2 separate regions of the Homo sapiens genome follow, and region 1 is linked to region 2. Evidence: fine-mapped QTL for protein levels in blood plasma. Region 2 holds a variant in brackets. A gene starts in the other region. All regions are shown on their forward strands.

Region 1 (2,907 bases), not on the chromosome of region 2:
ATCACCTGAGGTCAGGAGTTCGAGACCAACCTGGCTAACATGGTGAAACCCCATCTCTACTAAAAATACAAAAATTAGCAGGGTGTGGTGGCGGGTGCCTGTAATCCCAGCTGCTTGGGAGGTTGAGGCAGGAGGATCGTTTGAACCCGGGAGGCAGAGGTTGTAGTGAACCAAGATCGTGCCACTGCACTCCAACCTGGGCGACAGAGCAAGACTCCATCTCAAAAAAATAAAAATAAAAATAAAATCTATTTAGAGATATTCTTTTACGATAAGAATATAGTCAAGTATTATCTGTGTAATTCAAAAATAACCTACATTGAAAAACCAACTACGTTAGCCCTTTATGAAAGAAAAAATGCTGTAGTGAAGTGGCATGACCTGGCTTTCTGAAATATGAGAAAACATGGTTTAAGCAAACCGCACATCATAGAGTTGCTCCTTTCAAAACAAGTCGGCCTGGCCCTGAAGCCCCAGCACTTTTACTGACCTCCTTCCTAATGCTGACTACAAACTCCTTTCCCCTCAGTCCTGTGTGGGAGGCTGCAGCCTACATTTTACATTTCTAAGGTCATCCCTTGTCCTTTGGAAGGACTCTCCCGAAGCTGAGCGAATAGCCAGGGCTCCCTCCTCCTGCTACTGGGATGCAGCCTCTTCCTTCCTCAGCCTGACCACAGCAATGGCCGACTGGCCCTGAAATGCTCTTGGCAAGAGCAGCAGCTCAGTAGCTCATGAATGCACTGGTTTTTATAGTATTTTCTGGTTTAAGGACGAGAGAACTTGTTTGAAAAAAAAAAAGTCTGTTATTAAGAAAATCCTAAAGGATCCCAGCTAGTTGCTTGATACGCCATCTCCTTTAATATAGTCTCATTAACTGGACCAACAGTATGCACAATGCTCTTGACTGGACATACTTAACTTTCCCAACATACATATCACACCTACGCAAAAGAAAAGCAGGCAAAGAGGATCGTAAGTGGAAGATGTCTTAAGAGAAGTGACTTAGGAGCCCCTGAGGTCTTGCTACAAAGGGAGACAGAATGACAGACCGCAGTAGGAGAAATGTCTGTTACCTGTCCAGCACTGTGGTCCCCCGGCTGGCTCCCGCTCTGATCAGATGCCTAAAAGCTTCCCAGTTTCCACTATGGGGCCATTTGTCCTGGGCCTCCTGGGCAGGGGCTCTCACGCCCAGTGGAGGGAGAACCAAGCAAGACTCATTTCGCGTTTTCAGGCAGGACTGGCAGCACCGCTCCCACGCTCAGCCTCCCCCAGCTATGATCCTCCCAGTCTCACAGAGTCATCCCTGAGAGCCGCGCTGCTGTTTTAAAAACAAAAAGTGATTTCCTGGTCCTCTTCCCCGGATGGCGTGTGCGATTTCCCTCACGCCCATGGGAAGTCCTTCAGATCCTTCTTATCTGGAAACCTCTCCACCAAGTGGACAGACTTGTTTGGCCAATGCCCCTAGTTCTCACTTTTCTTTCTCCAAAGAAAAAAATCAGAAAAGCAAAACCAGAGCAAACCAAACATAGGTTAGAGCTAATGAGAAGTACAGGATGTCTGGTTTCAACTTTTAAAAGATGACCACTAAATTAGATTGTAACTTCAGAGAGGAAGGAAAATTAAGACTATCGATGAATTCTTTGTCTTTAGCAGTGCCAAGAAAGCAGAGAAAAAAAGAATCCGCAGAAGAGAAGAGACCTAGAGAAGTTGCTTAGTCCTCCCCCGCGGGAGGGCTGTACCTCAAAAATGCCATATTGGAGGGACGTCCAGTTCTCCTAGGTTTCCAGGGAAACTCTGTGAGTATTTGTGTATCAAACTATAAATTTAGTGGTACTTAAAATACCGCTCAATAGCATGGATATTTAAAGATAAGGAGATATATGGTAAAGGCCTGGTTGGCAGGCTGCATCCAGGTTGCTGGGTTTAAAGATGAATTATAGTCAGCTCATTTTTGAACTGGAAGTGACCTCACTGATCCTCATTTTACAAAAGAGGAAACTGAGGCCCAAGGAGAACCCTTCCCAAGGTCAGAACACGGATGGGGAATGCTGTTTGACTCTCTACTCTGGAGCTCTGCCCACAGAAAGTTTGATGAATGAGGCCTGGCTTGGAATCGGCATTGGAAATAAGTGCTTCGGGTGAGTCCCATGCAGGTAGTCCCAAGAGTATCTTCAGGGAATTCCTCATAGTGTCAAAGAAAGGACTCTGGAGTCAGACTGTAGGAACTGATGCTTTAGTCCCACCAATTATATGTGGCCGGGTACACATTACTTGACCCTATTGAGATTCAGTGTTGTTTTGTTTTTAGACGGAGTCTCGCTCTGTCTCCCAGGCTAGAGTCCAGTGGCGCGATCTTGGCTCACTGCAACCTCTGCCTCCTGGGTTCAAGCGATTCTCCTGCCTCAGCTTTCCCAGTAGCTGGGACTGTAGGTGCCTACCAGCACATCTGGCTAATTTTTGTATTTTTAATAGAGACAGGGTCTCTCCATGTTGGCCAGGCTGGTCTCAAACTCCTGACCTCAGGTAATCCCCAGCCTCGGCCTCCCAAAGTGCTGGGATTACAGGCGTGAGCCACTGCTCCTGGCCCTGAGATTCAGTTTTATTGTGTGTGAAAGTGGGATAATAATAGTACTGAGTTTATAGACTCTGCTGAAACTGAAGAGGAAGAGTTTAGTAACTGTTTGTTGTTCTCTGGAGCCCTGGGCTCCAATGCCTCCAAGTTCATCCTCTCTCCCCTCCAGCTGCCTTCCCTTCTTGTCATGCTATCAGCCTGTAGCAAGTCAGCAACCACCAGCAGGACTTAGGCTTGAGACCAGAGTATTTGGGCAAGAAGAGGATGAACTCCAAAATGTTATTATTCCACTTCTAGATAATGATTCTCAACTGTAGTCTACACGTTAGATTGGA
Region 2 (2,907 bases):
TCCTTGATCTCCTTGACTCCCGTTGGACCCAAGAAGTATGGCTTCTCTCCCCTTTCCTCTGGTGGATGGCCCTGGACACAACCCACCTCACACTAACAGAGACAGAGGGGTGGTCCAAGGGAAGTGAGTGAGAAGTTACCTGCAGAAGAGGGAACTTTTGAGAGAAGGAACCAGGTAGCTGTGAGGCCCTTGAAAACAGAAGGCTGTCAAGGCAGATTTGAAGGGAGAATATATGTGAATTAGCAAGTGCAGGAGATAGAGAGAGCACTAACTATTAGAAAGAAATGAAAATAGGGCCAGGCGCGGTGGCTCACACTTGTAATCCCAGCACTTTGGGAGGCTGAGGCAAGTGTATCACTTGAGGTCAGGAGTTCGAGTCCAGCCTGGCCAACATGGCGAAACCTCCCCACCATGTCTACTAAAAATACAAAAATTAGCTGGGTGTGATGGTGTGCACATGTAATCCCAACTACTTGGGAGGCTGAGGCAGGAGAATCTCTTGAACCTGGGAGGCGGAGGCTGCAGTGAGTCAAGATTGTGCCACTGCACTCCAGCCTGGGCGAAAGAATGAGACTCCATCAGAAAGGAAGAAAGGAAGGGAAGGGGAAAAGAAGGGAAGGGAAGGGAAGGGAAGGGAAGGGAAGGAAGGAAAGGAAGGGAAGGAAGGAAGGGAAAGGAAGAAAGGAAGGGAAGGGAAAAGAAGGGAAGGGAAGGAAGGAAAGGAAGGGAAGGAAGGAAGGGAAGGGAAGGAAGGAAGGAAGGAAAGGAAGGGAAGGAAGGAAAGGAAGGGAAGGAGGGAAGGGAAGGAAGGAAGGAAGAAAGGAAGGAGAAACTAGGAATAGGGAGAGGATAAAGAAATTTTAGTTTTTGAAAAAGCTGTGTTAAGCTAATCAAGTCACATGAGATCATGCAGAGATGTGGCTACCATAGTATCTAAAGAAAAGGACTCTGAGGCAGGCAGCCTGCCTGGGTTCAAATCCTGCCTCCCCCACTTATTCACTGTGCAATCTTGGGCAAGTTACCTAACCTCTGCCTCAGTTTCCTCATTTGTGATGGTTGTTGTAAGGATCAAGTTATTGCACGTAAAGTACTTAAAACAACTCCTGGCCCATTAAGCACAAGAGACCTGTGTTTTGTTCTTGTACTATCTTCCTCTTCATCATTATGTACCTATAAATTAACTAACCTGGATGTTACTGGCATTTCAAGATTTCCTTGCACAGTGCTAAAAGTCACTGTTCAAATTGTGCTCACAATCTGTGCACTCTTATCAGAATATGGGCAAGAAGTTGGACAGAGTTGCCCTACTAGAGAAAGTGGGTATATAGAGAGCATCTTTTACATATTTGCATTGGGGCTGTCTTTCATCACAATGGGAGCAGAATTTGACAGGCAGTAGGGTGGATGAGGTGCAGCTCCACACTAACCAGCTGAGCCATGTGAGCAAATATTGAGCACATCAACCCCATTCATCATCAGG[CT/C]TTTTTTTTTTTTTTTTTTTGAGACAGAGTCTCACTCTATTGTCCAGGCTGGAGTGCAGTGGCACTATCTCAGCTCACTGCAGCTTCTACTTCCTGCTTTCAAGTGATTCTCGTGCCTCAGCCTCTCAAGTAGCTGGGAATACAGGTGCACACCACCATGCCCGGCTAATGTTTTTGTATTTTCAGTAGAGACAGGGTTTCATCATGTTGGACAGGCTGGTCTTGAACTCCTGACCTCTGGTGATCCACCCGCCTTGGCCTCCTAAAGTGCTGGGATTACAGGCATGAGCCACCGAGCCCAGCCATCAGGCTCCCTCTAACACGTGTTTACATTTAATCATTCGATTTGCATAAATCTAGCTTCTTGCCTGCCCTAGACATGTGTGGCTTTGTTGCAAAGCTAGACATGCTTTAAAATTAATTTGAAATGCATGTAACTTTTGCTATCCCAAAGATGGTAATATAGCTGCATAGCATTCCTAGAGACCTCCAACACTTCCTTCCTTCCCGAACAGAGCATTTAACTCTCTTCTCAAACTACCGACTGTCTGGGGCGGTGTGCCATGATGCCCCGGGGGAAGCTCCGTGGATCTGGAAGGCAACTCGGGACATCTGGTCTGGCCAGCCCACCCACGTAATGCATTCAGCAGACCTGCCCCCTACACAGAGGGCTGAGCCTCTGAGCTCCCACAGGCTCTACCTTATAAGCAAAGACTGAAGAGTCTTTGTTCATAAGGAAGAGAGAAGAAAGAAAAGAAGCAATTAAACAGAATTGCAGGAGCTCCTAGAGTCTGTCAGTTTCTTCAGAGCCACGCCAGGGTCTCACCTATCTTTGTAGGCTGCTCAGTAGAAGTGAGGCACCCAGTGGGTGCTGGCTGAGGTCTCCTCTCCCTCGGCAGGGTCCCTTCTGATGGCCTCCCTCCTCCATCTGCAACAATCCCCCGCACCCCTGTGGGCTTCCTTCTTCCCACCACCTCTGCATGCTGGGCCCTCTGGGTTCTGTCTTCTTCCTATTGGAAGCTCCCTTTCCAAATGACCTCCTGTCCTCTGCTGGCCCAGACCTCCCCTTATGTGCTGTGAATCCCCCATCTCCAACTCCAGCCCAGTCTCTCTTCTCAACATGCAGTGGCCGCTTCCATCCATGTCCCCCAGGCATCCTAAATTCAGCACTTCCAAAACTGGAATTCACAGGTTTCCCAAATGCACTTGCACGCCTGGGTTCCTCATCCAGCCCAAGACACCACCTTTCCCCGACTCGCTCTGTCTAAAACCCGAGTCTTCTTCGACTTCCTTCCCTCTTTCCCTCGTGCCTAACGATAGTAATAGTATTGCTCATATGCATTGAGTACATCCAGTGTGCTAGACAGCATACGAATCCCCAGCAGTTTCCTTTGATACACCTACTACATGAGGCAGGTACTATTAT

Which allele goes with the higher level. Positions count from the first base shown, and alleles are read on the strand shown. Strength reflects both the effect of a copy and how common the allele is.
For the plasma level of the protein whose gene starts at base 1,299 in region 1, allele C in region 2 goes with a higher level than allele CT (weak association).

Evidence for each region. PIP is the chance, under the fine-mapping model, that this variant and not a neighbour inherited with it causes the effect. The UK Biobank Pharma Proteomics Project read protein levels with antibody pairs (Olink). The fine-mapping took linkage between variants from a reference panel, not from the people measured, so its PIPs are less certain.
Region 1: it holds the start of ADGRF5, and the variant in region 2 is fine-mapped to the plasma level of the ADGRF5 protein (UK Biobank, PIP above 0.99).

What each region holds. Positions count from the first base shown.
Region 1 is chr6:46,920,640-46,923,546 of GRCh38, forward strand. ADGRF5 (adhesion G protein-coupled receptor F5) reads right to left here and starts at 1,299. Exons shown (of 21, transcript NM_001098518.2): 1 at 1,074-1,299. LOC105375080 (a long non-coding RNA gene) reads left to right here and starts at 1,440. Exons shown (of 3, transcript XR_001744147.2): 1 at 1,440-1,796.
Region 2 is chr1:236,097,742-236,100,648 of GRCh38, forward strand. No RefSeq gene overlaps it. Among named protein-coding and RNA genes, the nearest start is that of NID1, 34 kb to the left of the region's middle. RefSeq lists enhancers at 1-62, 1-15. The variant CT/C (reference allele first, on the strand shown) is at 1,481.